5 separate regions of the Homo sapiens genome follow, and all the other regions are linked to region 3. Evidence: fine-mapped expression QTL. A gene starts in region 3. Each other region holds a variant in brackets. All regions are shown on one strand. Distances are between the middles of the regions. Region 1 overlaps UTS2B (urotensin 2B). Region 2 overlaps OSTN (osteocrin). Region 3 holds the start of CCDC50 (coiled-coil domain containing 50). Region 4 overlaps CCDC50 (coiled-coil domain containing 50). Region 5 overlaps UTS2B (urotensin 2B).

The links. PIP is the estimated chance that this variant, and not a neighbour inherited with it, causes the effect.
Region 1: its variant is fine-mapped to the expression of CCDC50 in whole blood (TOPMed, PIP above 0.99).
Region 2: its variant is fine-mapped to the expression of CCDC50 in whole blood (TOPMed, PIP above 0.99).
Region 4: its variant is fine-mapped to the expression of CCDC50 in whole blood (INTERVAL, PIP 0.97).
Region 5: its variant is fine-mapped to the expression of CCDC50 in whole blood (INTERVAL, PIP 0.96).

The regions. Positions count from the first base shown.
Region 1 is chr3:191,287,161-191,292,266 of GRCh38, forward strand. The region is part of intron 4 of UTS2B (urotensin 2B); the gene reads right to left. Among named protein-coding and RNA genes, the nearest start is that of CCDC50, 40 kb to the right of the region's middle. The variant C/T (reference allele first, on the strand shown) is at 2,298.
Region 2 is chr3:191,256,901-191,262,006 of GRCh38, forward strand. All of the region lies in intron 4 of OSTN (osteocrin), which reads left to right. Among named protein-coding and RNA genes, the nearest start is that of OSTN-AS1, 25 kb to the left of the region's middle. The variant G/A (reference allele first, on the strand shown) is at 2,425.
Region 3 is chr3:191,327,162-191,332,267 of GRCh38, forward strand. It overlaps CCDC50 (coiled-coil domain containing 50), which reads left to right and starts at 2,233. Exons shown (of 12, transcript NM_178335.3): 1 at 2,233-2,562. The coding sequence starts at 2,514. UTS2B (urotensin 2B) reads right to left here and starts at 3,365. Exons shown (of 9, transcript NM_198152.5): 1 at 3,253-3,365; 2 at 1,470-1,548. RefSeq lists enhancers at 1,800-2,401, 2,402-3,002 and silencers at 1,929-2,008, 2,109-2,388.
Region 4 is chr3:191,379,648-191,384,753 of GRCh38, forward strand. It overlaps CCDC50 (coiled-coil domain containing 50), which reads left to right. Exons shown (of 12, transcript NM_178335.3): 7 at 512-627; 8 at 1,040-1,084; 9 at 1,181-1,285; 10 at 3,099-3,178. Among named protein-coding and RNA genes, the nearest start is that of PYDC2-AS1, 43 kb to the right of the region's middle. The variant C/T (reference allele first, on the strand shown) is at 2,478.
Region 5 is chr3:191,297,947-191,303,052 of GRCh38, forward strand. All of the region lies in intron 4 of UTS2B (urotensin 2B), which reads right to left. Among named protein-coding and RNA genes, the nearest start is that of CCDC50, 29 kb to the right of the region's middle. RefSeq lists enhancers at 1,463-1,642, 1,653-1,712, 3,989-4,514. The variant T/C (reference allele first, on the strand shown) is at 2,426.

The DNA of each region.
Region 1 (5,106 bases), 40 kb before region 3:
TTGCTGAATTCAACCAAACATTTAAATAACTAATACAAATCATTGTCACACTCTTCCAAAAAATTTAAGAAGAAATAATACTTCCAAACTTATGAGGCCAGGATTACTCTGATACCAAAGCCAGATAAAGACATTACAAGAACAGAAAGCTACAAGCCAATATCCCTAACAAACATTGACACAAAAATCCTCAGCAAAATACTAACAAACCAAGATCAACAACACGTTAAAATGATCATTCACTATGATCAAGTGTGATTTATCCTAGGGATACAAGGATGTTTTACATACACAAATGAATAAATGTGATCCACCGAATTAATCGAACGAAGAACAAAACTATACAATAATTTCAACAGATGCAGAAAAAACATGATAAAATGTATATGATAAAAACTTTCATGATAAAAACTCTCAACATATTAAGTATGGAATGAATGTACCTCGGCACAATAAAGCCCCTATATGAAAAACCCATAGCTAACATTATATTCAAAGGTAAAAAGTTGAAACCTTTCCTTCTAGGATCAGAAACAAAATAAGTATGCCCACTCTCACCATTACTACGCAACATTGTACTCGAAGTCCTAGCCAAAACAATCAGAAAAAAAGAAAGAAAGAAAAGGTATCCAGAACAATTAGAAAAAAAGAAAGAAAGGAAAGACATCCATATAGGAAAGGAAGAAGTTAAATTGTCCCTGTTGCAGACAGCTTAATCATGTATATAGAAAACCCTAAAGATTCCATCCAGTAATTTAGAAATACTATGTGAGTTCATTAAAGTTGCAGGATACAAAATCTATGTTCAAAAATCACTGGCCTCTGTATATACTGACAATGACCTACCCAAAAATGAAATCAAGAATGTCATTTGCAATGGATATCCCCTCAAAAAATTATTAGGAATACATTTATCAAATAAGGTAAAAGACCTGTATACTGACAACAACAAAACATTGATGAAAGACACAAGCAAATGGAAAGATAGCCTGCTTTCATGAATTAGAATAATTAATATTGTTAAAATGTACATACTACCAAAAGTGATGTATAGCTTCACCGCAATCTCTTTTAAAATTCCAATAACATTTTGTACAGAAATAGAAATAAAAGCAATCCTAAAATTTGTATGGAACTACAGAAGATCCCAAATAGCCAAAGCAATTTTGGGCAGAAAAACGCTGGAGGCATCACATACACTACATTACTACAATATACTACAATACTATCATTATCTAAAGAGCATGCCACTGGCATAACAACAGATAAATAGACAAATGGAATAGTATAGAAATCCCAGAAGTAAATCCCACTGAAGATCAATTGATTTTCAACAAAGATGCCAAGAACATACCACAGGGAAAGGAGAGTCTTTTCAATAAGTGGTGTCAAAAAAACTGAATATTCACATTCAAAAGAATAGAAGTAGACCCTTATTCCACGCTATATGCAAAAATCAACTCAAAGTAGATTAAAGACTTAAGGCCTGATACTGTAAATCTACTGTAAAAAAAAAACTACTTTTTTCTATTTCTGTACAAAATTTTATGGGAATTTTTAAGAGAGATTGCATTGAAGCTGTATATCACTATTTACTACTTTATCCCACACTATATGCAAAAATCAACTCAAAGTAGATTAAAGACTTAAGACTGGACTCTATAAAACTCCTGCAAAAAAACACAGCTGAAAAGCTTCGTGACATTGATTTGAGCAATGATTTTTTGAGATACGATTCCAAAGCACCAGCAACAAAAGCAAAAACAAACGAGATTACATCAAACTAAACAGTTTTTGCACAGAAGTTAGTATCCAAAATATCTAAGAAACTCAAACAAATCAATATCAAGAAAACAGCTCAGCTTTAAAATAAGCAAAAGACCTTATGGAGAGTCCTCAAAAAATTAAAAATAGAACTACCAGATGATCCAGCATTCCCACTACTGTTTATATATCTAAAAGAAATCAGCCAGGCGCAGTGGCTCACGCCTGTAATCCCAGCACTTTGGGAGACCGAGGTGGGTGGATCACGAAGTCAGGAGATCGAGACCATCCTGGCTAACATGGTGAAACCCCATCTCTACTAAAAATATAAAAAATTAGCCAGGCATGGTGGCAGGCGCCTGTAGGCCCAGGTGCTCGGGAGGCTGAGGCAGGAGAATGGCGTAAACCTGGGAGACAGAGCTTGCAGTGAGTGGAGATTGCGCCACTGCACTCCGGCCTGGGCAACAGACCAAGACTCCATCTCAATAAATAAATAAATAAATAAATAAATAAATAAATAAATAAAAAACAAA[C/T]GAAATTAATATGTTCAGTGCTCTAACATATTCATCACGGCATTATTCCCAATGGCCGTGATATTGAATCAAGCTATGTCTATGATGGGATGAAAACGTAAAGAAAATGTGGTATATATGCACAATTGAAATGTCTTCAGTCATTTAAAAGAAGAAAATCCTCTCATTTGTGATAAAATATATAAGCTTGAAGGATATTATGTTCAATAAAATAAAACAGACACAGAAGGACAAATATTTTTATTTGTCATAATTTCACTTTTATGTGGAATCTAAGAAAATGTGAACTATTAGAAGCAGAGAGGAAAATGGTAGTTACCAGGAGCTTGGGTTGTGGGGAAGGGAGAATGTGTAAGAGATGTTTAAAAGACACAAAATATCAGTTAGATAGCAGAAGTTAAGTTTCAGAAATCTGTACAGCCTAGTGATATCATTAATAACAATGTATTTTATTGTTGAAAATCACTAAAGAAGTAAATTTTAAGTGTTCTCACCACACAAAAATGTTGTATGTGAAGGAATCATATGCTAATTTCTTCAATTTAGTCATAACATAATGTATACATATTTCAATACATCATGTTGTACACAATAGATGTACAGAATTTTGTCAAATTTTTAATGAATTGATTTTTAAAAAGAGACATAGACAAAGAAGTCCCTGTTTCATGACCATTTCCATCCACTTTGGGGAAAAGTCTGCAAAGATCTTTAATTAAATCTTTTATCTCTCTCTCTCCTTAATAAAATACTAAATTCTTGTCATGAGTGCATAACCAAATCATTCAAATAAAAGCAGATGTTTACTATCGATTGTATTGGATGGATAAATGAAGTTAGAATATTTGTTTGAGGAGTTCTTGTTATACACATTTATAGTATATAGCAATATTATTGTTGCCATTTATTGAGCAATCATCACATGCCAGGCCCTGTACTAAGCACCTCACAAATAGTACCTCATTTAATTTCCATAGCAATCCCTCAACAATTGCACAACTATAATTTTTCATCTTTTACAGTAAAAGAAGACAGTTTTGGAACCAAAAGTGAAACCCAGATCTACCCAACGCAGAGCTACATGCTTAACCCACATGATCTCTTGCCCACATATCACAATTGGGGAAACACAGAGATAGAAAATGATTGCTCCAATAACAGAGACCCCCATTTTAAAGAAAACTTAGAAACATTTGAACTTTGTATTTTCAATAGCAATACTTTAATAACTCAGTCTATGTATCAATTACAGGATATAAATGGCATTTCCATTTTGTCAATGAAGGCTTCGTCAAGTTATAATTTACAGGGAACAGATAGCTTTAAGATTCACTTGCATCTGACTATTTCTCACGATGAGTGACAAGAAAAGCACAGATAAGTGTTTGTATGGTGACTCAAACTGATTTGAATAATTACTTTCAGACTCCAGTAAGCTCTTGGCCTTATTACTTTTTTTGTAGTAAGAAAATTGAACAATTTTATTTTTACTTCTCTCTGACTATTAATTCTTGGTAGAATTCCTTACATGTAGTTAAATGAAAAAAATAGCGGAAGGAAGGAAGCAAAAGTAGAGTTTCTGACATCCTGACAAGACGGTGCTTGGAGTTCTTTTTTTCATTTAAAAGAGTTAACAATGGCCTGAATTTGTTGAAATAAAGTAGAAACATCTGTTCAAATACTTGGCCCTTTTTAAAAATTGAGTATTTTTATTGTTAAGTTGTAAGAGTTCATTGTATTCTGGATTCTAGTTCCTTATCAGATACATAATTTGAAAACATTTTTTCACAATCTGAGGGTAGTTTCACTTTCTTGATCATGTCTTTTGAAGAACAAAGGGTTTTATTTGAAAAAAGTCCAATGTATCTATTTTTTCTTGTGTTTCTTGTTTTTGAGTACTATAAGAAACTATTAGCTACTTGAAAGTCACAAAGATTTATGCCTATATTATTATCTAAGAGTTCTATAGTGAAACTCTAAAATTTAGGTCTTTGAACCACTTTCTTTTTTTTTGAGACAGAGTCTCACTCTGTCACCCAGGCTGGAGTGCAGTGGCGCCATCTCGGCTCACTGCAAGCTCCACCACCTGGGTTCATGCCATTCTCCTGCCTCAGCCTCCTGAGTAGCTGGGACTACAGGCGCCCACCACCACACCTGGCCAATTATTTGTATTTTTAGTGGAGACAAGGTTTCACCACGTTCACCAAGATGGCCTCCATCTCCTGACCTCGTGATCCACCCACCTCAGCCTCTCAAAGTGCTGGGATTACATGCGTGAGCCACCGCGCCCGGCCTGATCTACTTTAAGTAAAGTTTTATATATGGTGTGAGGTTGGGTTTCACCTTTATTTATTTATTTATTTTCGCATGTGGATATCTAGTTGTCTCACCACATTTGTTTAGAAGATAATTCTTTCCCCCATGAATGGTCTTGGTAGCTTGTCATAGATGTATGGTTTTATTTCTGAACTATAAATTTTATTCCATTGACCAATTTGTCCATTCTTATACAAGTAAAATATTGTTTATTAATGTAGCTTTGTAGTAAGCCTTGAAATTGGAAAGTGTGAGACTTCTAATGGTCTATTGTGAAAAGCTGTTTTGATTTCTCTGTATCCCTTGCATTTCCATATACATTGTAGGATCAGCTTGCCAATTTCTGAAAAAAAAAAAAGAGGTTGCAGGAGGGAAGCTAAGATTTTGGTAGAGGTTGCACTAAATTTGTGAATTAATTTGGAGAATTTTTCCATCTTAAAAATGTTATGCCTGGATCTGTGAACACAGAATATCTTTATAATTAATTAGGTCT
Region 2 (5,106 bases), 70 kb before region 3:
GTTGGGTGTTGTGGCTCAAGCCTGTAATCCTAGCACTTTTGGAGGCCAAGGCAAGAGGACCACTTTGAGCCCAGAAATTTGAAACGAGCCTTGGCAACAAAGGGGCACCCCATCTGTACAAAAAAGTTTTTTTAAATTAGTCAAGCATTGTGGTGCAAGCCTGTAGTCCCAGCTACTTGGGAGGCTGAGTTGGAAGGATCACTTGATCCTGAGAGGTCAAGGCTGCAACGAGCCATGATCACACCACTGCACTCCAGCCTGGGTGACAGAGCAAAACCCTCTCTCAAAAAAAAAAAAAAAAAAAAAAAAGACCATAGACACACAAATTTACATGCCTTTTTATAATCCTTCTTACCAAAAACATACTCTACTTCCTTACACACTTTGCATATTTTTTCTCTTATATCTAGTAGTTTTGACTACATATAGTTATTATAGTGTTAATAATTAGTAACTTTTATTTTAGTAAAAAATCTAGGAAGTAGGTAATTTTAATTACATATCAGATGCAGAGCCCAGGACAAAAGACAATGCCTGGAGAATCTAATTTCTCACAGCATCTCCCAGCAGGGGAGGCATAACTGGGATAGGAGAGAATCTAATCTCCCAGCAGGGGAGGCATAACTGGGATAGGAAAGATGGACCAGGTGTTATCCCCCACCCTCATCATGGGCATCTGTCTAGACCTCTGAATCGAAAGGCTGTAATCAAGATACACAGACTCGGAAACAAATTAATCAAGTATCAAAAATATCAAGCAACAATTTTTTGGCCATAAACCTGCCTGATCAATAGACTCAGACAAAAATGTCTACATTAAAATTTTGAAGACATTTTAATATTATTTTACCAATAATTTTAAAACTATCTTTATTTCTCAAAGATTGCTAAAATCACATGAACTTGAAAAGCATTTGGTCTTAATTTATGAGTACTCATTTATTTTTAAATTAATGTGGTACCATGTGTAGACAATATTAAACATGTATAGCTATAAATACATATATACATATACATGTATGTATAGAGAGACACAAGGTATAGCATACACATCTGCACATGAAGACTTTATTGTTTTGATTTTAGAATTTTAGCCATAAGACAGGTAAAACTCACTAGTCTAAAAAGACAGATTGAAACTATGCCTTTGTAAATGGAAAAATTTAAGGCTTATCTGGAGTACCCCTTCTGAGTTTCAGAGAAAACAGGTAGCAAATTTATATCTCAAAGCACAGAGAGAATTTGATTTTTCAAGAAGCTTGAGTAGTCAAAGGAAGATTAAAAATGAATGCCAAGATTCCTTAGGAATTAACCGTAAGATTGCATAAGGAGAGCAATCTCATTTAGATAGGTAGCTTTTAATTCAGTCTGTGTTTTTCAAGTGGACCACTGAGGTCAGGACAGAACTCATTAAGGAACAAGGCTAACAAAGTATTTTTAGTTTATAGGGCCTAATAATTTAAATATGAAAAAAGTGGATGCAGTTAAAAGGCAAAGCATTTAGATGTTTAAAAAGCAAGGGTTTCTGAGAGTTGAACAATGAGAACACATGGACACAGGGAGGGGAACATCACATACCAGGGCCTGTCGGGGCGTAGGAGGCAAGGGGAGGGATAGCATTAAGAGAAACACCAAATGCACGCGGGGTTTAAAACCTAGATGACGGGTTGATGGGTGCAGCAAATCACCAGGGCACATGTATAGCTATGTAACAAGCCTGCACGTTCTGCACATGTATTCCAGGACTTAAAGTATAATTAAAAAAAAAAAAAAATCAAGGCTTTCACTGAATCCCAGGTACCCCCAAAAGAGGAAAGCACCATGGAAACCAGGCCACACACTTTGGTCACTTTGCCGCAAATACATTTTTCTGGGTGTTTAAACCGCACCGTTGTTCATCTAATGTGCAAATGAGTAGCCCCCTGTAGTAACAAGCATTTATTGGAAACAACTATAGTTGGCCATGTCTAACACTGTTACTCTTGCCTAGCCATTACATACACTAAGGTCAAGTCTCTCATAATACCAAATAATTTCTGGTCAAAAGCCAAAGTGATCAGGTAACACAATACAAAAGAGAGCAGAGTTTTAGACCTCACAGGAGGTTGCCTACGACGCTTAAAACTGCAAGGAAAGAAGACTCCCAGAAAGGAGTAAGAGTACTCTGAGTTACCTTCTTCTGAGTCCCTTAAGGAGTGTGAGCTGTTAGAAGTCTTTTCTAGACCTTTTCCTGTGGTACCAAAAATGGCAAAGAGGAAGGAGAAGCAGGGAGAAGTGAAAGTAAACGGGAAAACAATCTGTTTTTTTTTTTTGAGACAGACTCTTGCTTTGTCGCCCAGACTGGAATGCAGTAGCACCGTCTCAGCTCACTGCAACCTCCGCCTCCCAGATCCAAGAAATTCTTCTGCCTCAGCCTCCCGAGTA[G/A]CCAGGAGCTACGCCCCCTGGCTACTTTTTGTAGCCCCCAGCTAATTTTTGTATTTTTAGTAGAGACAGGGTTTCACCATATTGACCAGGCTGGCCTCGAACTCGTGACATCATGATCCACCCGCCTTGGCCTCCCGAAGTGCTGGGATTACAGGCGTGAGCCACCTTGCCTGGATTTTTTTTTTTAACCAAAATACACTCCCTGGTAAAATTAATAAGCCTTAACCAAGGTTCTGACTTAACCAAGGATGTATGAGGTGTCTCCAAAGAAATAAATGACCACCTCCAAAAAGTCAAAAGTCACACAGATGTCAAACCAACAGGGCCCCCTGACTGGGTATCAAAGCCAGGCGTTGATGCTGAAAGCATGGACTTTTAACTATTAGACCACAAGGCAGGATGGCTTTTATTGTTATTCCCTCAGGCAATCTCTTACAAAGGATTTTAAATGTTTTAGGTCAAATTTTTGCCCTTTAATTTAGTCAAGAGAATTTTGAAAGCTAGCTATGACCCTATTATGTATCCTTCTTTTTTTTTTTTTTTTTTCTTGAGACAGAGTCTCACTCTGTCACCAGGCTGGAGCGCAGTGGTACAATCTCGACTTACTGCAACCTCCACCTCCCCGGTTCAAGTGATTCTCCTGCCTCAGCCTCCGGGGTAGCTGGGACTACAGGCACACACCATGCCCGGCTAACTTTTGTATTTTTAGTAGAGATGGGGTTTCACCATGTAGGCCAGGATGGTCTCGATCTCTTGACCTCATGATCCGCCACCTCACCCTCCCAAAGTGCTGGGATTACAGGGGAGAGCCACAGTGCCCAGCCTGTGTATCCTTTTAATTTAATCTTCGCATCAATTGTTTGGTGTAAGATATCTCTAATTTTTTTTTTTTAATTTAGGAATTTTAGTCTAACTTAAAGGATCCGTCTTCTGGCCACCGACAATTAGGGTTTCCAGTGGTGTACTTATTCCAGTAACAACTCAATCCAAAAGCCTCTTCCTGTAAAGCCAGAATGTAATTTTAGGGCATAGACAAAAACAATGCCAAAGATTCCCCCACCAAAAATCTCACTCCCGGAAACAGGCTAAGAGAGCAAAAGACTCTTGTTGCCACAGATATTAAGGAACCCACAAATTTCTGAGGGGGGTGCCAGTCACAGTTGTGAGGGGGGTGCCAGTAATCTGTGACACCAGGTGTCCCCTCCTGGGATTGGACTTTCCCGGCATTAACCAGGCAACAACGGCTGAGAAAACAAAAGCTCCTTATGGACAGGACTTCTTATGACAAACCCCCGCCCCCGAGCTTGGGAGATTAGTAACAAAAAAAGTCTTGGGTTCCCAGGCATTTTTAGGATGGCCACCTGATGTGATCCAACAACCATGCCCTTCGGGTGATGGAGACCAGGAAAGACTGCTCCCACTTAGTCAGATGTCAAGCTCTCCAGGACATAAAACTGAACAAGAGGGAACTTTATTTGGTATCCCTCTTTATGAACAACACAGAAAGACAGAGACAAAGAAAAAGACTGTTTCTGGGAGGAAAGAGATCAAACAATATGAATATTCATACACAAAGTACCAAAAAGTACACCAGAGATACTATACCCCAAGTTAAGTCACATAAATCTTTGTCTCGCATTAATCAAAATTGTGCAGAGGAAAGAGTGATTTTTACCATTCACCTGATCAGATTACAGAGAGAGAGAGATAGAGGCCAGGAGCTTTTCTGGTAAGAAATTCTTACTCTTTTTGCCAGCAGATTAGGTCTTGGGTTCTCGTAACTGTGACTTCCAGCGGGGTGAAATTTTAATCTCGCTGCTCACTGCACCCAACTGAAGGTGCCAAGGGCTAACTTTAACCTTTGCCCCTCTGAAGGTTTGCCGAAAATCACTGACATGCGGCAGATGTAAGATTAAAAGGAGAAGAGGATACAAATTTATTTAATGTGTATACAGGGGAGCCTTCAGAATGAAGGACCCAATCTACTAATGGTGTTCAAAAAATTGTATATTATCTTGAGGTTACAGAAAGAATGCAGGCTCAGAGCATGGCCAAAAACAGGTTTTAGTGACAAGAGAGGTTATGGGAGAGAGAAAGAGGCTTGGCTAGCAAAGGTAGTCTTGTTATGTAGATAAAACCCAGCAGCCCTCAGAGAGAATAGATGGCAAATGTTTCTTTTCAGACCTCTGAAAGCATTAGACTCTCAGTTAATCTTCCCTAGATCTAGACAAGAGGAGGGCTGGCTGCATGAATGCAAATCCCCCCACAAAAAAACAGCTTTATGGAGCCACTTCAAAATATGTCAAGGAAGTATATTTTGGGTAAAATATTTTGATTTCCATCACTAGTTACCAGACCAAACACTAATTTCTTCCCTGATACGTATTTTTGAAAGGACGATAATTTGCTATTTATGCAATGGCTTTCTGAAATCATTAATATATTGTACCAAAGTTTTGAGTTTTTAGTAGGCTTTAGCTCTAAGCAACTCAAATTCAAAGAAGTATTTTGTCTAAATGTTCCTAGCTTTTCTAGATGAAATTAGCAAGTTCTAGGTCTGTGCCATTGAAATCAGAATGTCAACCTGATAAAATTAGAAATGTGACTATTGGCCGGGTGCGGTGGCTCATGCCTGTAATCCCAGCACTTTGGGAGACCGAGGCGGGTGGATCACCTGAGGTC
Region 3 (5,106 bases):
GTAATGAAGAGACAATTTCAGAGGTATTAACTGGGTTAAGAGAACTAGGGGAGGCCGGGCGTGGTGGCTCGTGCCTGTAATCCCAGCACTTTGGGAGGCCGAGGTGGGCGGATCACTTGAGGCCAGGAGTTCCAGACCAGCCTGGCCAACATGCCAAAACCCTGCCTCTACTAAAAATACAAAAGATTAGCCAGGCGTTGTGGTGCACACCTGTAATCCCAGCTACTCGGGAGGCTGAGGCACGAGAATCACTGGAACCTGGGAGGCAGAAGTTGCAGTGAGCCAAAAGGAACTAGGGGAAGCCATCACACTCTAGGCCTGAAGGGACACTGGAAACAAATTGTTTTATTAGAGACCCATGAGAGCTGAGGCCATGGAAAAGAGGCCTCTACACAGGCCCTGTAGTCATAGAGGGACAGGACTGTGGCCAAAATTTTGGGTTAAAGGAAAGAAGAATACTCTGATATTTCTCTCCTCCCTTCTTTTGATTTTCTGCCAGTGCTTCCCATTGGTCAATCACAACAGGAAGCCACAGGTCAAAGGGGCCTAGTGATTTATCTGTAGGCATCCAAAGGCACGGCTTGGTAGAGAAGTAGAAACGATAGATTTGGGGAGGGAAACAGAAAATACTGCTGTTATAAATATTCTCTAGACCACAGGAAGTTAAAAAAAATTACTAGATTACAGGACAATTAAAAAATTCCCATAAATCTACCTTTCTAATACCACTTCCTTCTTATTCCCACATTTAACCTGCTGAGTGTTATCTCTGCCTAGCACTGGGGTGGGTAAACTTTTCCTGTAAAGCATATTTTAGACTTTGAGGCTTAAGAGGCAAGGTCGAAAATATTATGTCCTATTTATGTAGTGATTTGAAATGTAATTATTTGAACATATAAAAAACAGTCATTCAAATTCAGTGGCGTAGATTTGGCCTGTGGGCTATACTTTGCTACCCTCTGGCCTTGAAAGTCTTCTAAATTTTTGCTAGCCTAAAATCCACCTACTTTTCAATGTCAAGTTCAAATAAAACCTCCCCTACGTGGCCTCTCATACTGGGACTCTGAGCTGTGAGTGACAGAAAATCAACTATTACTAGCTTAAGCAAAACTGAGGATAAGTTGAGAGTTTGCGGGTTGTAGATCCCAGAATCCAGGAGTTGCTGAAATGCCAGCTGCTCTGGGGATATCCTGCTTTGCTACTGTGGTAACATCAGAACATGCCCTCTTCATCTCCCTTTCTCTTCTCTTTGCTTCTGTCTTCAGTTTGGCCTCATCATCTCCTAGAGGCAGATCTTTTCCACAAGAAACAGAATATGTAACTCTTTATGTACCCAGGAAAGTATTCTGTTTGACCTGTCTTGGTCACCCAGCCACCCTTCGATGAACCCATGTCGGTGGAGGAAGGGGGAAGAGTGATGGGGTAGTCTCGAGGTTCAGACATGGCACACGTTTGGGAGAGAAGCTCACCTCTGAGGAGTGGGGAAAGAGGCAGTTTCCCAAAAGGAGGATGCATTCTGTTGCCAGGAGATGAAACAGGAGAGGTTGTCTATTTTAGAGAGATAGAAATGTCACAATTACAATCCAATGTGTGCAGCGCTATAACAGAGATAAGTCTGACGCCTCGTTATCACCCACAGTACCTAACATCACACTTGGTAGACACATTCATGCGATTTTGATGAATGAATGACTCAGTTCTCCCAGCTGATTGTGTACACACTCTACTCCAAACTGGCCCAGAATTTTATCAGCTGCTCTTCATTCTGTACGTTGTATTTGGGGTTTTTATGGCCATCTACCATCTCTCCTCTAATTCCGGGTGCAAAAAGAGTGTATGAGAGAGAGGCAAGCATGCAGTAAACATCCTGTGTTAATCTCAATCCCAGAACCAGACCACAGAATGCTGACTACACCGCTCACGGGAAAGACTATGTTTTAGGTGACCCGTGTGGCCTTTTTGTTGAGGCCTTTAGGATACAAGGCCCCCACCTAAAGACGCGACCCTCCCGTAGGAGGGGGGCAGGGCCCGGGGGCGGGAGCACAGCGGGGCCCCAGCCTCAGGCGGCGCGTCACTGAGCACAAAGGAGACAACAGCGAGGCGGCAGCGGGCGCTGATCTTCGCTCGCCAGCCACTCGCAATTGCGGTTACAGACCTGCAGCTCCCCCTCCCCCAGCCGGCCCGCCCGCCTTTCTGTCTCCTCTCTCCCTCCGTACTGGACGGCCCCGGTCCATTTCCGGGCTCCGGATATTTGGTATCGATTGGGGCCGGGGACGCGGAGCAGGTGGCCGCGGCGGGGCAGCTGGGCCGCCAGCTTGGTGCCTCGGGGACCGTCTCCCGCTGCTTTGGTCACCAGCCCCTGCCCGCCCGACCCGCTCCGTTCTCCGGCCTGCGAGCCCTGCCGGCCGGACTTTGCGCCGCGTCCGGCGCTGCTGCTGCGCTCGGGGCCCCGCTCGGCGCCGGCGGTGACCGGGAAGCCCGCGTTAAAGGGGCAACCGGGACCCTGGCCCGGTATGGCTGAAGTCAGCATCGACCAGTCCAAGCTGCCTGGAGTCAAGGAAGGTAAGGGCCCCGGAGGGAGAGCGCGCGGGACCCTCCCCTCTCCCAGCCCGAGGTTCTCTCAGGTCAGGGGCGTTGCCATTTCGGCTCCCGCGGCCCTCGCCCGGTGCCCGCCCTGCGTTGGCCTTGCCCGGACGTGAAAGGAATTGAATTCAGGTTCTAGTGTGGGACGTTGGGCAAGTCTCCGACGTTCCAAGCCCGTTTTTTCTCAAGGGGGTGGTTGGGGGGGGGGGGGGCTAGCAGCAGCCCCAGCAAGTAGGTGGCTGTGCCCGTGTTCTCGTGCATCGCAAAGCCTCAGTGGACGCTGAGAGCCGGGTGAATCTGACTTACTCCGCTTCTAAAAAATCGAGGCCCAGCCTGGCTGGCTTGAAGGCTGGGAAGTGGAGAGGGGTTGACATTCAGTTCCGTGTGGAGCCTTTGTTTTGAAACATGACTCTTTCCCTCCTTCTCTCCCTACTTTTCCTAGGCCGGCGTCTGGCTGGCTGACTTTCCCACCTTCCTCAAGGTTTAAAAGTTTAGTCTTGGCTGTGTTCTGCGCGGGCGGGAAGCCACTATAAGCATTTTCTTACAAACAAAACACACACACACACACACACACACACACACACAATAGTGAGCGAGGGGAACAGGGGACTGATGGCCTTGTCATTGCTTTTTGTACCAATGTCCAGGAAAGTAGAGATTAGTACTGACCTGGCTTTAGCTGACAGCAAGTAGCCTTTTGACTTCCCTTCTCTTGTTTTTCCACTAGCTGCCTCAGGACCTAGCTTTTTTTTGCTGAGATCTTAGGTGCTGGATCGCCTTATGCCTTGAGTTATCTTTGTTTATTCTTTGGTCCTAGGAAGCATAGACGTTCCAGAGTGCTGACGCAGACCCCTAAGTTCCAAGGGCTTTGCAAAATCGGCTTCTGTTGTGAATGTCATTTGTATCGATTGAATACTGTAGCCTGAGGCGTCTTGGAGATGTGGAATTGAAAATAGTTTTTGCTTTCTTGGAACCGCTTGTTTTATTGCCAACTTAATTTGACTCCGTTGGTCTTGTGTGTGCTCAGGCCAGCCCAAAAATCTCAGGAAAATGAGGGACTGCTTGATTGCTTTCTCAGAGTTTCAAGCACTAGGAGACTAGTGACTAGTGGTCACTGATTTTATGTAGAATTTCTGATGGGCCTAGTTCTGTCTTACTGTTCCGGAAGGGTGTTAAAGCTTAGGCGTGAGATTTTAGCGTTAATACTTTTCTACCTTTCCGTCCCTGGTATGGCTTTGATGAAGACTTAGGGCTTTCACCTGTAGAAAACAGTTTTCACTCTGCTGTCAAGACTAAGGAGGCTGAGCGATAGGAAAGGCGGATCCATACTTTTGAGAGTTCTTATCTTAGAGATTGTCTGGTTATCCTTTACTTTTGGATATGAGGGTTTTTTGTGTGGGTATGTGTTGGGTTTGTCTCTAGAGAAAGAGTGATCCTTGTGCAGTGTGTAGTGCATGGTGAGTAGAATGAGAATTGGAGTTCAAACAAAACCTGGTATGTATAGTATTAATCATATGGTGCTATGATTTTATCCAATCCCCTATTCATGTGAGTGAAAAAACATAAAACTCTTCATATACATTTATATTACCCTTAGGTCTTCTGATTTCGTACCAAGACATGAATGATGTATTCTAACATATTATTTCTCAAGGAGTTCCACAAACACCTTCCATATAAAAATGCAAGATTTTTCCATTTCCACACTCTAGAGTCTAATACATTTAAATTAGCTTTCATTTTGCGTAATACGGTGTTTGGCAATCTCTTTTATGTAATCTGGTAAATTGGTAAGAAAATTCAGTGTGGCTCTTTCATTAAGTTACAATTAAATATTAATTTTGAAGGTGGTCAGGAATCGATGAGATCACTGTCTTTGTAAACATCTGACTTTTCTAGTTCCAAGATCATCAAAGGAAGTGATGTATTATACTAGGAATGTCCTACTAATGGTGGTGAAGTTTTTGATCTGAGAAGTATTCAAGTCTAATAAAGTGTATCCTTCCCTAATATAACTCTTAATTATGGCCCAGTTACTCCCTAACAGTGTCTTTATCCTAATTAAAGAGAATGAAGCTTGTGCCCCTGATAGGGTAAAACATGTGCAAACATTGAGACTGTGGTAATATTGAAACTCCAACTTCATTTGAGAAGGGTTAGTAGTAGTAATTAGTTTAATATTCTGATGCAGATTTTTGAACCCCATTCAAAAAAATCCCTGTATCTGTCTCCTCTACTTTTTAATTTAAACTTTTGATAGATATATATGCAGTTACAATTTATATTCAATTTGGTATCATGGGGTAGATTCCAATAGAGATTAAGAAGAATAGTGCAGTGAGTGTGTGCCCGTTTCCATTGCTGTTTAGGAGGGGATGGGGCACCCTGTGACCTTTTGTCGTGAACATTTCAATAGAGGTCGTGGGTAGCAGCTGACATTAGGGTAAGGGGATATTTAAAAATCTTCTTTCCTAGGTTGAAATCTAATGCTTGCTTACTTAGTTTTTAAGGAAGTCAAAAATA
Region 4 (5,106 bases), 52 kb after region 3:
GCTTGTCTCACAGGTATTATCACATGACTGCCAGGTGCTGCTGTTCCTGCTCCCTCGGAAGTAGTAAGTATGCAGGCTGAGATAAATAGAAAGAAGCCTCTACTCTCCTCCAGCCTTGACAGCTTAGCCTCTTTTAAACTCTGACTCTGTAATTTGCTTTTCTTTAAATTATTTTTGTTTTCAATGACTTTTTTTTCACTTTGTATTTTTCCAGGGCCTCACTTGCAACTTCTTACATAAATTTCTGCTGTTGCAGAAACTATGTGAGAGGGGACTTTTTACCAGGCAGGCTTGCTTAGATATCTTTGTTTAAATGTATGCATTATCTACATTGCCACTTCCATTCCTAGGGCAAAAATATTTTTAATGCACCCCACACTGTATTCTGGAGTAGAGGTAGTATTGTCATTGTTAGCTACTAAAGAAAAATCTCCTTTATCTTAAATTTCTTAACTTTTCAGAAAACATCCTCGGTTGTTTTATTACATTGAGTTTTTTTTTTTTTTTAAAGGAATGAAGCCAAGAGTGATGAAAGAAGCTGTATCTACTCCATCACGAATGGCCCACAGGGATCAGGAATGGTATGATGCTGAAATTGCCAGAAAACTGCAAGAAGAAGAACTTTTGGTGAGCAAATTTTAAGGCAAAAGTTTAGATATATTGATGGGTATTTTTTTTGTGAATCTAGTCCATCTTGAAATTATATTAATAGTCCTCTATCAATTGAGAAACCTTTTTTTATGAGTGGAAAAATCATGACAATAGGAATAGAGTATCCACTTTTGCTTAGTGAGTAAGCATTAGCAGCAAAGTCCATAACTCCATTTCTCCATCTCCATGATTGTTCTCCATAACCCTGCTGTAGGATTTGATAAAAAGAGCTCCTGCTCTGGCTGGTGAAAGCATACCAACTGATTATCAACCTCAGGAACATGAGTCACAATTATTTTCAAAAACCAGCTTATTTTGTACAAGATACTGAAAATGCACAACATAGATTCCAATTAAATTCTTTGTTTTTGTATTTTCGATATCATAGGCTACCCAGGTGGACATGAGAGCCGCTCAAGTAGCTCAAGATGAAGTAAGTTAATGAGTTTAGCTGATATTCTTTGGAAATATCCTAGTATATTTCTATCTGCACCTCTGCAGTTAATGATATTGACTGTATTTTGTTTAGGAAATCGCTCGACTTCTAATGGCTGAAGAAAAGAAAGCTTACAAAAAAGCCAAGGAGCGGGAGAAATCATCTTTGGACAAAAGAAAGCAAGACCCCGAGTGGAAGGTAGAGTGTGTTTTGTTTGTTTTCTAATTAGAAATAAAATTAGAAATGAAAAGGGGACTCTGCTTTTGAGTTAAGCTCTGCAAATATATTTAGGATATATGAATATATAAATTATCTGTATTGCATATGTGAATCTGATCTGTGAAGATTCCATCACCATGAAAAATCACTGAATTTTGGAACATATGTAAAAAGTTACTGCTAAGATTGAAAACTCATTCTGTTCCCTTTAAGACGGAGTGAAATGCAAGTGCTTCTGGTCATGAACAGTCTTAGTTTTCATATACAGTACTTTGATTATAGAAGAATATAGCATTTTCACATGCTTTCATATTTTCCACAATGAACTTCTCTTCCCGTCTCTACTTTCTTTGTGCTTACATTATCTTTCATCTCTATCATGTATCCGTTTCTCTTTCCTTTGATGTAACATGGTTTGTGGCAGACTGAAAGATACATACTTATCACCAACAATTATTATTTATGTCACAGTGCAAGACCTATCTAGCGTGAGTTTGGACGGTTATCTTTCCCCTCGTTGATCAGAAATTGTAGACAAAATAAGCAGTTACTGCAATTCATTTTGCTGCGGTAATTGTGAGTTCCAGCTTAGCAGACTTTATTCATCAGTGACAGCGCGTAAGACAACACTTTGGACCTCCATGGAAAGACAAAGACATTTTTCCTGATAGTAGTGTATAATGTAGAGAGGAAGACAAAGTGTAGACAGCTAACAAATAGAAGGTTAAGCTAGGTGGAAAAAGAGCAGAGGAATAGGGAGAGAATTCGTACAATACAGGGTTTTTAGGGAGGGAGTTTAGGCCCAGAAGAATGAAACCTAGGTTGTGTATTCCTTACACAGTTGGTGTTTAGCGCTGGTCTCTCTTGAACAAATTCCTCCATTGGGTTTCTGGTCCCACCTCACAGTCTCAGTAATGGTTGTGAGGAAAAAGGTGTAGAAACCCTGCTAATAGTATTGCTGTACTCTTTCCTGTTGCTCAGTTACCCACGAGTTAGTCTCAAAACAATGAATGTATTATTCTCATATTAATTATGTATATTTAGCTCTCTCTTAACTAACTCAGTAATTCAAGATTTTTTCTAATATACTGTTTTAGTCAAGGATTCCCAAATACTTTTGTTAAATAAATTAAGCCACAAATAATTACCCAGGAGTTTCTCAGATTCTTTG[C/T]TACCTTAACTAGGAAAGGGTAAGTATTTAAGGATTAGGAATCAAGCGTGTCAGAAGGCAATGGCCACATCTCTAGCAGGTATCATCATGACTTCTGTAATTTTTATTTTATAACTGGTACTGATACAGTTCCTCTCTTGGAAAAGTTGACTTGAATGTGCCTTAGTTTACTGGCTGGAAATCAGCCTAAGACATGTGTGCGGAAATAAGTTTGAGTGCACAAACCTGGATTCCGTAGACTCTGGGCGTGCACTGGTTCTTGGCAATTACTGTGTAGCTATTATGTTAATAATCAGTGGCCAAGCACACCCATCTAGGGAAGCATGTTCCTGTGTGTTCAGCCCATTCCTCTGGCTGCTCTAAGGCTTTCAGATGAGTGGGCTAAATTACACCTTCCATGTAAGCCCAAAGCCTACCTTTGCAGCTATAAATTTTCTACCTCTGGAGTGGCCATATATAAAAATATTTTATGTTCCTCAATTAAATATAATTAATCTGAAATTACTAAGGAAGAGCTTGGCATGATAAACATACGTTAAACTTAATCTTTCCCTTTGTTTGATGATTCTGGATTGTATGTGTGTGTTATTTTTGTTTGTTTGTTTGTATTTTTGTCCATAGCCAAAAACAGCTAAAGCAGCAAATTCCAAGTCAAAAGAGAGTGATGAACCTCACCATTCTAAGAATGAAAGGCCAGCACGGTAAGCTGACACCTGAAAAGAAAAATGAGGAAGTTGACTTTGGGGTGAATAAGGAGATTTCAGTTCCCTAAGAAGAGTGTATGTTTTTTGGAGAGGAGATCCAAAAATCTGCATTTGTAAGGTAGTGTCAAGACATTCAGGGTTATTTTTAGAACTTTATTTCCACTCTTAAATTGAGTTGTGTACATCAAATCAGAATTTTACAATAGTTGGGGTGGATAAGGAAGAATGTACTTTTTGTTAGGACTGATTCTTACCTCTGCATTCACTGAATTTATGCTTTCAGCTTGGGGAATGAGAGTGATTTTTTTTCCTAAATAAAATTTCGAGTTTTAAATATTTACCGGGTTTCATAGCCACACTGATGTGTGCATGCCATTTGCACATGCTCAAACTCATTTCTTTCTGAGTCTCAGTGTCCTTGACAAAATCTTGAATCCTTGCAGACTGTCTAAATCCCACTCAACAAATAGCTGTGGCTATGGTGTACATACTTTCTGATTTATCTCAAACAGTCGTGCATAATAGTTATGGAGCAGCTGCTGTCTTTCTGCCTCAAGTTGTCAACATTTAAGTCTCTGGGGAAGTAACCTCTTTTTTTTTTTAATTGCTTTTTGTTGCCTTTCGAAAGAAAACATGATTGGAATGTGAAGAAAAAGATACTAAAAACAAGACAAAAAAGTAACACTAAGTTTAAAATTTTGAAAACTCTGAATTATTCAAATTTGAATTTTATTCTTATTTGTTAATTCTTGAAACATAACGCTTATTTCATTGAATAATTGACACTGTTGTTGCTACTCATGCCCACACTGAAGCTCCTAGACTTGTTTCCTTCAAGTGAATGTATTTAGTGTCCTTAAAAAGTAATCCTCTATTTTAAAACTCATTTGCTTTCAGAAGATAATCTTTCAGAAAATTACATTGGGTTTGTATTGCTCTGAGAAGAATAGTGGCATATTCTGTCTAGTTATATAAAATCTTTCTGTTGTAGCTTTTGGTTAAGCACATGCCAAACATTTTCTTAGAACTCTATAGGTTAGTACATTCCCAAAGTATCCAAGTAAAAGAAGCAGCAGCTAATCTGTTCTTAGTAAGTAAATACATCTGGATTATTATCCTTTTTTTAGTCAAATGAATTTAAATCATCTTTAGGCTTAATTCTGCAGTCTTCAGATCCTTGGCCTCTTTAGAATACTAATACCATTGACAGCATATATGATGGAACAGTACTGGATGATTTCTTAAGAAAGTTTATTAAAGTCTGAAAACAAGTTTTTGGAATATAATAGATACTTTAGAAATATTTGGCATACTGAAAGAGTGAATAATCAAATGATCCTGTATTAAAAATGGCTATTATAAATGAATGAAAAGTGACTTAGGGCTAGTAGAATAGAAATTTTTGTTTTTACCTTAGAGGAACATTTGTCTTTAAATGTCATTTTAGCAGGATTGTATATATGACCAAAAAAATGAGGAATTTTATGAAACCTGTATTTTCATAGTTAAAAGATAAAGCTTATATATCTTGCATATGTAGATACCTTGCACAACTAATATCAGAATGTATACTTTCTGGTTAGAATCTGGTTTTCCTCTTTCACATTTAATCATGATGGAAAAGTTTAGCTATACAGAAATATTTGGTTTCAAGGATTGAAAAACATGGCACTTCCTAGGTCAAGATGTTTATTACTGAAGTGTAGTAATAGTAGTAGTGAGACACAAATTCTTATGTAGAGCTTGTAATACTTATGGTTAGAAATCCAATTTCTTTGTCTGTTACAGAATTTTCTACTCTTCGTGTATGTGTGTTTAACTTTTGTTGTTATTTTTCAAAAATTGCCATTTTTATTTTAGATTCTGGGGATACATGTGTAGGTTTTTTTTACAAGGGTATATTGTGTGGTACTGAGGTTTGTACT
Region 5 (5,106 bases), 29 kb before region 3:
TGTCATATAACACTGAGAATTCCAAGCGCTGGGCTTCTGTCTCTAACATGTAAGATGTTTAGGCTAATTACATCTGAGATCCTTTCCCTTTGAACACTCTGTGGCAATATTTTGATGAATCCTTTCTTATCATCAACTGTTGCCTAGTTGTAGCATATATATTCATCTTTTTATTTTTTAGGGAAAAAAGGTAAGCCAAGATTCTTATACATTTAACACCCAATGTCGTACCTAGCACAATAATAGACCCACAATAACCTTGTGAAAAATGTATACATTGAATTCCAAAAAAAACAGTCACTGCTTTAACTTGGAGATACAGTTTGGATTTTTGCCCCTGCCCAAATTTTATGTCAAATTGTAATCCCCAATATTGGAAGTGGATTCTGGTGGGAGGTGTTTGGATCATGGGGTAGATTTCCCCCCTGCTGTTCTCATGACAGTGGGTGATTTCTCATGAGATCTGGTTGTTTAAAAGTGTGTGGCACCTCACCATTCTCTCTGTTCCTCCTGCTCTGGCCATGTAAGATGTGCTTGCTTTCCCTTTGCCTTCAGGAATGATTGTGTTTCCTGAGGCCTCCCCAGAGCCATTATGCTTTCTGTAAAGCCTTCAGAACTGTGAGCCAGTTAAACCTCATTTCTTTATAAATTACCCTGTCTCAGATGTTTCTTTATAGCATTGTGAGAATGGACTAATACAGAAAATTGGTACCAAGGAGTGGAGCACTGTTATAAAGATACCTGAAAATGTGGAAGCAGCTTTGGAACTGGGTAACAAGAGGTTGGAAGAGTGTGGAGGGCTCAGAAGAAAATAGGAAGATGAGGGAAAACTTGGCACTTCATAGAGACTTGTTGAATGGTAATAACCAAAATCTTGATAATGATATCGACAGTGAAGTCCAGGATAAAGGGGGTCTCAGATGGAAATGAGGAACTTATTTGGAACTGGAGCAAAGGTCACTTTTGTTATTTGTTAACAAAGAGATTGAATGCATTATGCCCCTGCTCTAGGGATCTGTGGAACTTTGAAATTGATAGTGATGATTTAGGGTGGCAGAAGAGATTTCTAAGCAGTAAAGCATCCAAGATGTAGCCAAGCTGCTTCTAACAACAACATATGCTCCTATGCAGGAGCAAAGAAGTGATCTGAAATTTGAACTTACATTTAAAAGGGAAGCAGAGCATAAAAGTTTGGAAAATTTGCAGCTCAGCCATATAGTAGAAAAGAAAACTCCATTTTCTGGGTAGAATTTTAAGGCAGTTACAGGAATTTGCATAAATAAAAGGTAGGCAAATGCTAATAGCCAAGACAGTAAGAAAAAGGCCTCCAAGGCATTACAGAGACCTTTAGGGGCAGTCCCTCCCATCATATGCCCAGAGGTCTAGGACGGAAGGATGGTTTTGTGGGCCAGGGCAAGGGCCCCAATACCCTTTGCAGCCTCTGGACACTGCTCTTCACAGCTCAGTTGCTTCAGCTCCAGCCACGTCTAAAAGGACCCCAGATACAGCTCAGGCTGCTGCTTCAGGGAGTGCAAGCCATGAGCCTTGGCAGCTTCCATGTGGTGTTAAACCTGTGGGTGCACAGAGTGCAAGAGTTGGGGCTTGAGAGCCTCCACCTAGATTTTAGAGATGTACGGCAAAGCCTGGATGTCCAGGCAAAAGCCTGCTGCAGTAGCTGAGCCCTCATGGAGAACCTCTACTAAAGCAGTGCAGAGGGGAAGTGTGGGGGTGGAACCCCCACACAGAGTCCCCACTGGGGCATTGCCTAATGGAGCTGGGAGAAGAAGGCCACCATCCTCCAAACACCAGAATTGTAGATACACCAACAACTTGTGCCCTGCACCTGGAAGAGCCACAAGAAATCAACACCAGCCCTTGAGAGCAGCCACGGGGGCTGAACCCTGCAAAGTCACAGGGGTGGAGCTGCCCAAGACCTTGGGAACCCACTCCTTGCATCAATGTGCCCTGGATAGGAGACATGGAGTCAAAGGAGATTATTTTGGAGCTCTAAGATTTAATGACTGCCCCATTGGCTTTCAGACTTGCATGGTGCCTGTAGCCCCTTTCTTTTCTTTTTTTAACATTTTTTTTTATATATACACATATATACATTTTTTCTTTGACACGGAGTTTTCGCTCTTTCACCCAGGCTGGAGTGCGGTGGTGCAATCTCGGCACGCTGCAACCACTGCCTCCTGGTTCAAGCGATTCTCCCAGCTCAGCCTCCCGAGTGGCTGGGATTACAGGCGCCCACCACCATGCCTGGCTAATTTTTGTATTTTTAGTAGACATGGGGTTTCACCATGTTGGCCAGGCTGGTCTCAAACTGCTGACCTCATGATCCGCCCACCTCAGCCTCCCAAAGTGCTGGGATTACAGGTGTGAGCCACCGTGCCTGGCCTGTAGCCCCTTTCTTTTGGCCAAT[T/C]TATCCCTTTTGGAATGGGAGTATTTACCCAATGCCAGTAAATCCATTGTATCTTGGAAATAACTAACTTGTTTTTAGTTTTACAGGCTCATAGGCAGAAGGCACTAGCTTTGTCTCAGATGAGACTTTGGACTAACTTTTGAGTGAATCCTGGAATGAGTTAAGACTTGGGGGACTGCTGAGAAGGGATGGCTGTATTGCAATGTGAGAAGGATGTGAAACGTGGGAGGAGCCAGAGGCAGAATGACATGGTTTGGTTCTGTGCCCTCACCCAAATGTCACATCAAATTGTCATCTCCAGTGTTGAAGGTGGGGCCTGGTGGGAGGTGATTGGATCATGGAGGTAGAATTCCCCCTTTGGGGCTGTTCTCATGACATCTGGTTGTTTAAAAGTGTGTGGCAACTGCCCCCTCTCTCTCTTGCTCTTGCTCTGGCCATGTAAGATGTGCCTGCTTTATGTTTGCCTTCAGGTATAATTGTAAGATTTCTGAGGCCTCCCCAGAAGCTCTATGTTTTCTTTACAATCTGCAAAACCATACAATAAGTAAACCTCTTTTTAAAACAAATTACTCATTCTCAGGTATTTATTTATAGCAGTTTGAGAAAAAACTAATATTCTTGGTATGGTTACTCTTTTTCCTCCATAAATCTATTTTTGTGTGCATTCCATTTTATCACTTTTTCTTCTTTATTTATGAAAGTGACTTACTGCCCTAACCAAAATATGTCACCTTCTTTCCTTGACTAACCCAGCCTGTTCCTCTTTAGGTGGATTTTAGCTGTCTTTCCGGGTGGTGAAACAGATTCAAGAATTTGCATAAGCTTTAGTGAAACTAGAAAAGAAAATTTGTCTCATTCTAGCTGGTGCCCTAAAGATTTGAATGGAAAAAAATACAGTAGTTCAGACATCCCTGGCTTTGCAAAATGCCATTTTGCTCAGTCTTCATTGAGTCACAGTGCCACTACCTTGTCTTCCACAAGTTTCACTGAGTTTCTCACCACAAGAGTGTTGAGAACTGTGAAGATTCTTCAATGTTATCAAAACATTGAGTTATAGATGAAGTTAGATACTGAACAATTGGTATTTGTTTTATTAACTAAATTTTTGGTAATTTTTTTTTTTTTTTTTTTTTGAGATGGAGTCTCGCTCTGTCGCCCAGGCTGGAGTGCAGTGGTGTGATCTCGGCTTGCTGCAAGCTCCGCCGCCTGGGTTCACACCATTCTCCTGCCTCAACCTCCCGAGTAGCTGGGACCACAGGCGCCCGCCACCATGCCCGGCTAATTTTTTTTTGTATTTTTAGTAGAGACGGGGTTTCACCGAGTTAGCCAGGATGGTCTCGATCTCCTGACCTTGTGATCCGCCCGCCTCGGCCTCCCAAAGTGCTGGGATTACAGGCGTGAGCCACCACGCCCGGCCAATTTTTGGTAATATTAATACATCTATGGAAACCCTATTCAAAGAGCAGTGCTCTAGAAAGATGTCATTATCAAAATGAGATTTCTTCCTCTGACAGAATCTGTTAGATGGAGTCAATATTTATGGAGTTTTTATCCTGCTTGTGTCAGAGGCATTTGAAACAGAGTGACATCATCTTGAATAGGGGCTGGGTAAAATTAGGTTGAGGTCTGCTGGGCTGCAATCCCAGGGGGTTAGGCATTCTTAGTCACAGGATGAGATAGAAGGTCAGCACAAGATGCAGGTCATGCAGACACTGACCTGATAAAATAGGATGCAATCGAAAAGCAGGCCAAAACCCACCAAATTCAAGATTGCGCTGAAAGTCACCTCCGGCCATCCTCACTGCCCATTGTAAGCTAATTGTAATGTATTAGCACACTAAAAGACACTCCCGCCAGCATCATGACAGTTTACAAATGCCATGGCAACCTCTGAAAGTTACCCTGTGTAGTCTTAAAGGAGGAGAAACCCTCAGTTCCTCTAATTTCCCACCCCTTTCCAAGGAAACTCATGAAAAATCCACCCCTTGTTTAGCATATGATTAAGAAATAACCATAAACACAGCCAACCAGCAGCCCTCAGGGCTGCTCAGCCTATGGAGTAGCCATACTTGTATTCCTTTATTTTCTTAACAAATTTGCTTTCACTTAATTCTGTTGGCTCACTCTTGAATTCCTTCCTGGGCAAAGCCATGGACCCATGTGGCCTCCCAGGCTGAAACTCAATTCTAGGTTTCAACCTGTGACACCTGTATAATTTATACCTCCTGCCTGTATATGATTGTTTAGCTGAGCTGTTCGTTAAGTCCATTAACTACTATAACAACATAAACTCAGATTTATTGGCACTACTGTTTGCTTTGCTAAGACATGGAGATTGAGAAGAAAGGATTCTCTGGAAGGCAAAGGTTGTAGAAACTGTTGGGACTCAGAAAAATTATGCCCCAGAATATGGCACTTTTGTTACGCTGAGTGCTTTGAACTAAAGGAGAAACAAGGCCTCTCTGACCTTCTCTGTTCCCCTAGTCTCTTGCTCCTCTTTCCCTCCCAAAGCAGGCATGAAGAGGCTCTCTCTAAAGTTCCCTTAACTCACTAAAGAAAGTTCCTGTGAAAGGAATGCAATTGTCATGAGGCCCCTCCTTACAATAATATCATCAAATAGCGAAGATTAACTAACAGGAAAGGAGAAAAAAGATTGACACTACCTATTCTTCTGTGGACTG